Linked DNA regions of Homo sapiens. The protein of the gene in region 1 purifies or fractionates together with the protein of each later gene. This does not show direct contact. Each region holds a gene or a part of one and is shown on either strand. Other genes may lie near its edges.

Evidence for each region. The genes of interacting proteins can lie anywhere in the genome.
Region 2: the proteins of FOXR1 (region 1) and MBTD1 purify together in Homo sapiens (affinity purification with mass spectrometry; 4 studies listed by BioGRID and IntAct, with this or other methods). This does not show direct contact.

The regions. Positions count from the first base shown.
Region 1 is NC_000011.10:118,974,643-118,978,294, forward strand, and holds part of FOXR1 (forkhead box protein R1), read left to right. Parts: intron 1-3,652. UniProt on the Homo sapiens protein: Transcription factor which acts as both an activator and a repressor.
Region 2 is NC_000017.11:51,204,438-51,208,089, reverse strand, and holds part of MBTD1 (MBT domain-containing protein 1), read left to right. Parts: intron 1-1,084; coding exon 1,085-1,202; intron 1,203-3,652. UniProt on the Homo sapiens protein: Chromatin reader component of the NuA4 histone acetyltransferase complex, a multiprotein complex involved in transcriptional activation of select genes principally by acetylation of nucleosomal histones H4 and H2A.

The DNA.
Region 1 (3,652 bases):
CATGATCTAGATTTGAAAAGATCACTCTGGCTGTTGTGTTGAGAGTAGACTGTGGATGTACAGAGTCTAGGAGGCTGCAGTAGTAATCCAGACAAGAGATGATGGTAGATTGGGCCAGGGTAGTAGCAGGGAGAACCAGCTGGCTATGCTGATGGATTGGATATGGCGTATAAGACAGACAATTGAGTATGAGCCTTCAAAGTGTTTTGACCTAGTGGAAGGATAGAGTTGCCTTGTACTGAGTGGGAGACAGGTTTAGGAAGGAAGATCAGGAATTCTGTTCTGGATATGCTGAGCTGGAGATCCTTAGACATCCAAGTAGAAGCATTGAGTCTGCAGTTGGATACATGAGCCTGGAGTTCTGGAGAGAAGTGGGGACTGCAGATGTAAATTTTGGGTCTTTTGGTATATGGGTGGAACTTAAGGAGTAAGAATAGAGGAGGAACAAGAATGAGCCCTGGGGGCAGTCCATTGTAAAGAGATTGGAGAGAAGAGAGATAACTAGCAAAAAAGACTATTGAGAATCAAAACTAGGGCGTCTGTGGTATCCTGGAAACCAAGTGGAAAAAGCCTTTCAAGGAGGGAGGGGTTGGATGAGTGGAATGTAAGTGATGATTGGACTTAACAAAGCAGAGGTCCCTGGTTAGTGGTTTTAGTAAGTGGTAGAACAAAAAACCTGACTGAAGGGGGTTTAAGAGTAGAAGGAGGGGAAGTAGAGGCAATGTGTTATGCCTCAACAGGAAATAAGATGGGATAATCTTTTTCTTTTTCTTTCTTCTTTTTTTTTTTTTTAGAGACAGGGTCTCTATCTGGTGCCCAGGCTGGACTGCAGTGGCACCAGCACAGCTCACTGCAGTCTTGAGCAGCCTTGAGCAGCCTTGAGCAGCCTTGAACTCCTCGGCTCAAGTGATCCTCCTGCCTCAGCTTTCCAAAGCAGGCTGAGATTACAAGCATGAGCCACTGCACCTGGTCCCTAAAATGGGAGAATTAACAGCATGTTTGCATGCTGATGAGAATGACCCAACAAAGACAAAAAATTAGTGACACAGGAAAGAGAGGGGAAGATTTGTGGAACAACATCCTTGAAAAAGCATGGGGGATCTGTGCCAAAGAGAGACACAGACATACAAAGGTGCTATCCTTGGGTCGCAATGAGATCACCAGTCCATTGATCCTATCACCTTTTCACTGTTTCAATCACTTGATATGTCCACCCTTATTTAACTAACTTGAATCCCATGGTCAGATATTACGCAGGTTCCCTGGATCATCTGTGGCTTTGGAGCACTTTGTTGGCCAAACCACAACCCTGACTAAATCCACCTCTGCCAAACGAGTGCGCCAAAACCATAATTCAGTGGACTGGTGACCTCAGTGGGATCATAGTTGGGGTTGAGGGAGTTAGCCAGAAAGACACGAGGTGGTGCGTTTTTATGTGGTGCATAAATGAGGTTACGGAGAGGTTGCAGTTGTTGGTTTAGGTTATGCCTGAGGGAGTGTCCACAGTAGAGTAGAAGTCAAACTCGCTGGAGAAGAGTTCAATAAATAGCAAAGATCATGTTTTTGTTTTTGAAGCAAGGTCTGGCTTTGTTGCCCAAGCTGGAGTGCAATAGCGTAAGCTTGGCTCACTGCAACCTCCCTTTTCCCGCTCAAGCCATCCTCCCACTTCAGCCTCCTGAGTAGCTGGGACTACAGGCTCACGCCACCACACTCGGCTAGATTATTATCTTTGTATTTTTTATAGAGATGGGGTTTCACCATGTTGCCCAGGCTGATTTCAAACTCCTGGGCCCAAGCAATCCGCCTGCCTAAGCCTCTTAAAGTGCTGGGATTACAGGCATGAGCCGCTGCACCTGGCCAGCAGCCAAGATTTAAGGCAGGAGTAGTGTTGGAGAGTGACAGCTAAACCAGGAGGTCAGTAGATGGTAGTAACAATGGAGATTGATTAGTATATAAGTTCCTGTATTAACTTGAATATATACATCCAGGAGCAGACAGTAAGGTCGAGTAAATTGTGGTCCTGCCTGATTGCTCTTAACAAGGGCTGCTCCAGTTGATACACAGAACTGCAGTAAAATAAGAGATTCTGTCTCTTTGCATGTTTCTCAACACTTGGTATTATCTTTATAATTCCAGTCAATTTGATTATCTCATTATCTTACAGTGTTTTTCGTATTATTAATAATGCTGATCATCTCGTTAGCCATTCAGTTATCCCCTCCTTGTGAATGCTGATTCATATCATTTGTCCATTTCTAAGTTTGTGTTGACCTTTTACATATTGATTTGTAGGAGCTCTCTATGTATCAGAGAACTGAGAAATTTGGATTGAAGTTTTGCTATTTTGTTTGTTTGTCTATTTGTTTTTTGCTTATGGTGATTTTTACTATGTTAGAACTTTTTTTTGAGACAGAGTCTTGCTGTGTCACCTAGGCTGGAGTGTAGTGGCACGATCTCAGCTCACTGCAACTTCTGCCTCCCAGGTTCAAGTGATTCTCCTGCCTCAGCCTCCCAAGTAGCTGGGACTACAGGTACACACCACCAAGCCCGGCTAATTTTTTGTACTTTTAGTAGAGATGGGGTTTCACCTTGTTGGCCAGGCTGGTCTCAAACTCCTGACCTCAAGTGATCCACCTGCCTCGGCCTCCCAAAGTGCTGGGATTACAGGTGTGGGCCACCGCACCTGGCCAAACTTTAATTTTTGTGCTATAATATGTGCATAAAACTTACAGATTCATTTTGAGGGTAACTGGCATCTTAATAGTATGTATTATAAGTCTTTGTTCAAGTATTTTAAGTTCTTTATTTAAGAGCTGAGATGGGAAGATTGCTTGAGTTGGGAGGTGGAGATTGCAGTGAGCCGGTGTCACACCACTGCACTCCAGCATGGGCAACCAAGCAAGACCCTGTCTCCAAAAAAACCCCAATTTTTCTATCTTTTGCTACTTTTTCCTTTTTTGAATACTATGTTGAATATTAGCAACATAATAGGCATCCTCTCTAATTACTGAGCTCTCCGATAAGTATATCATTTCTCAAACAAAAGCCTAGATTCATCTGTAATATAATGACACTCATAGGGACAGTGAGGGGGCAAAAATAGTTTTTGTCCTGAACAACCATTAATGGTGGTGCCACTTGCTAAGACAAAGAATACAGGAAGGCCAGGCATGGTAGCTCACGCCCGTAATCCCAACACTTTGGGAGCCCGAAGCAGGAGGATTGCTTGAACCCAGGGGTTCGAGACCAGCCCAGGCAACATAGACCCTCATCTATACAAAAAATACAAAAATTGGGCTGGGCGCGGTGGCTCAAGCCTGTAATCCCAGCACTTTGGGAGGGTGAGGCAGGCAGATCATGAGTCAGGAGTTCGACACCAGCCTGGCCAATATGGTGAAACCACGTCTCTACTAAAAAATACAAAAATTAGCCGGGTGTGGTGGCGTGCGCTTGTAGTCCCAGCTTCTTGGGAGGCTGAGGCAGGAGAATCACTTGAACCTGGGAGGCAGAGGTTGCAGTGAGCCAAGATCGCGCCACTACACTCCAGCCTGGGCGACAGAGCGAGACTCCATCTGAAAAAAAAAAAATACAAAAATTAGTGGGGTGCAGTGGCATGTACCTGTAGTTCCAGCTACCTGGGAGACTGAGGTGG
Region 2 (3,652 bases), on another chromosome or scaffold:
GCATGGAGGACATTTGCCTAATGTTCAAATTGGCTAGTTCATGTAACTCCTAGATATCTTTGCTCATCTTTGAGCTTTGAGGCTATTTTGGTTTTTCCTGATTTGTTCATACTATCAAGTCTTTTATAACCTCACATAATCCTTTTCTTTATGATCAACATTCTAAATTGAATGAGGAACTGACTGTCCAGAGCAACACAAACTGTTTAGTGTTATCAGCATTTATATTCTTAAATTTGCTTATTTGATTTAATTTACCATTGCATAAGTTCCAAGTAATTGTGAATTGCCTTGAGTTTTAAAGATTAAAATATAATGGAAACAATACTTTGGGAACATCTGTTAGATTTCAGAAAATCCCTTCATGATGCTCATTTAATTGATTTTCCGAGTCCCCATCTTAACCATTTGCTGTGGGAGGCTAGTGATTACCGGTTCTAACATTGGAAGTTTTCTCTTTATAGTAATTTCTACATGAGAAATTTTGAAATAATAATTTAAATAGTTTACCATGGTACTCATCTCCAAAACTCTTCAACTCCACCTTCTTAATAACTTTATCCAGTGCTTTTCCCTCACGTCCATCTATGTGGACTAGATTTCTAATCTATGAATTTAATTTAAATTGAAAATTTTCATTTCTCTTATTCATGTTGTTGGAAACCACACTGCTGATTGGAATTGTTTTTCTTTCTGCTCTTAGGCCAGATCTTTTAAAAGTAGAAATTAGGGTGAAGTGTATTCACTCAGTACATATTAAAAATTTCTTAAATCAGTTTAATCCTATTAAATCTGCTATTGAGTTTGTAATTCCACTCATAGAAAAATCGCTGCTTAAATCTCATATTAGGACAGTATCAGATTTTGAAGTCAGCATGAATCTAGTCTAATATATGTGAATTTTCTCTTTATCTTGTTTGTCCCTGAAACTGGCTTTTTCCAGATAGAATTCTAGGAAACAAACGGAATTAAAATGACATTTTTAGTTTAATATTCCTATTATTGATGGTACTGCTTAATTTTCATTGATATGTTTTAGGCTTTATGTTAATAAGACAATAATTTAATGATTTTTATGTGACAGGCACCTATGGGGACCTGCTGGGGTGATATCTCAGAAAATGTGAGAGTAGAAGTTCCCAATACAGACTGCAGCCTACCTACCAAAGTCTTCTGGATTGCTGGAATTGTAAAATTAGCAGGTGAAAAGCATGAATAATAGTTTAGTAGAAAATGCAGAGATCCTTGTAACCTTTCGTAAAAAAAGCATGTTTATAAATTTTGCAAGTATTGCCAAATAAAAAATATGTTATGATATAGGGCAGGGGTTGGCAAATTGTTTTCTGTGAAAAGCCAAACAAATATTTTCAACTTTGCAGGCCATATGATCTCTGTCACAGCTATCCGTCTCTATCATTATAGCATGAAAGCACCCTTAGCAATACATAAACAAATGGACATGATTGTGTTCCAGTAGAACTTTATTTACAGGAAATTTGAATTTCATATAATAGTTATGTATCATGAAATATCCTTTTTTTCTTTTCAACCATTAAAAATGTAAAAGTAATTCTTAGATCACAGCCATAAAAATAATCCAGCAATAGACCAGATATATAGGCCATAATGTATATGTTACTTTGAAAAGTAACAAAAGTTGAGGTACTAAAAAAAGTGGTAAGAGCTGGCCACAGTGACTCATGCCTGTAATCCCAGCTTTTAGGGAGGCAGAGGCGGGAGGTTAGCTTGAGCCTAGGAGTTCAAGACCCACCTGGGCAAAATAGCGAGACCCATTCTCCATTTTAAAAAAATAAAAATAAAGTGGTAAGAACCTTAATACCAAATTGATACAAGTGTTGATAATTTTATATATCTTGGGTTCTTCCGTTCTGTTTATTCCCACTGCCTCCACCATACCAAGCCCTTTACTGCTCATGAAGTAAACATGTTAGGAATCTACTATGGTAGACAATGTGGACAAAAGATGATATCCAGAAGTATAAGACTTGTATTTTTTCCAGCATGTTCACATCGGCCAAATGTTGACTACTACCAGGTATTAATATGACAAGATACTCAGTGAGTAGTGTAGTAGGGCATTGTGGAGGAGAGGCAGGCAGCCACTCATAAGAAAAGTTATCTTCAATTACTACTGTGACAGATTTTTAACTCCTCCCACTCTCTCTAGTTTTATTTCCGGCATTCTCCTCAAAACACACTGTAGACTGCTCTGTTGTGTACTGCTAATTGACTTAATTTACCTAAAAATTATTTTAATTTTATTTTTCTGTTCAAGCATCTTTTATGGCCTCTTTGTACTTAAAGGATCAAGATAGCCAGCATTTATGACTATTGATGAGTTGCACCATATACCACATGCCAGATGTATTGTAGTTCTCCAGCATAAATGATCTGTTGTGATGAGGCCAGTCTCCCTCTCCCTTTCATACAGCACGTTTTTGTCACCTCTGTGCCTTGGGTTACTCTTGCAAGAGTGTCCCATCTCTGTACTGAACTGTACTACTACCCAAGTCAATTCCCCATCTTTTTCTTGAAACATTTTCCCAGCTGTATAAGCATTCACTAAATGCTTGTATTATTCTCTACACTGTAATTTAAAACAACAGCATATTATTTTTGCCCTGGGTGTTTAAGTTAGTTACATTTAAATAGCTCTTAAGATCAGTGCATTTACTATCCAAAAATTACTTCTGCCTTCCATCTCCGATTTTACATTTCTGTTTTATCTAACTGCATCATGTATCTTCTTTTAAGCCACTTTAATGCCATTGTAGAAGTGAGCCTAATGTTAACCAGAAGCTAGAGTTCAGCAGTAATTAGCAAACTCATAAATTGTTCTGAGAAATTATTGAATTTTAAAACTGAACATTTAAGGCTATAAATTTTCACAAACATGAAAATGCTGACTAAACTTGTCTCCTAACCTGAAATACACATATATTGGCCTTTTTCTGTTTCATTAAAGGCCTTAAATTAAATCGTAATCTTTTATCAACATAAAGTTTATAGAATTATAAATAGGATATATTACATATTTTTTGTACTTTCCAAGAGTAAGCCTTCCTATTTGCCTAAGACATAGTTTTTAACTCATTTTACATAATTTTCTTTGTGTTTATTGAACTTTTTACCTGGCATATTCAAATCTTATTTCCAAATACATACGACAGAAAAATTTAGATTCTTAAAGTAGCCACATTCAAATTACCCAGGAGTAATTGGCCACCTAAGCAGCTGGATAAAGCAATTTCTTTGAAATACATTTCAAGGCCAAGCACAGTGGCTCATGCCTGTAATCCCAGCCCTTTGGGAGGCCAAGGCGGGCAGATCACCTGAGGTTGAGAGTTCGAGACTAGCCTGGCCAACATGGTGAAACCCCATCTCTACAAAATACAAAAATTAGCTGGGCATGGTGGCGCACGCCTGTAATCCCAGCTACTCAAGAGGCTGAGGCAGGTGAATCACTTGAACCCAGGAGGCAGAGGTTGCAGTGAGCCAAGATCACACCACTGCACTCCAGCCTGGGCGATAGAGCAAGACCCTGTCTTCATAAAATATATATATATATATAATTATATATAATATAAATAAATATATAATATGTATTTTTATATGTTTATATGCTTATACA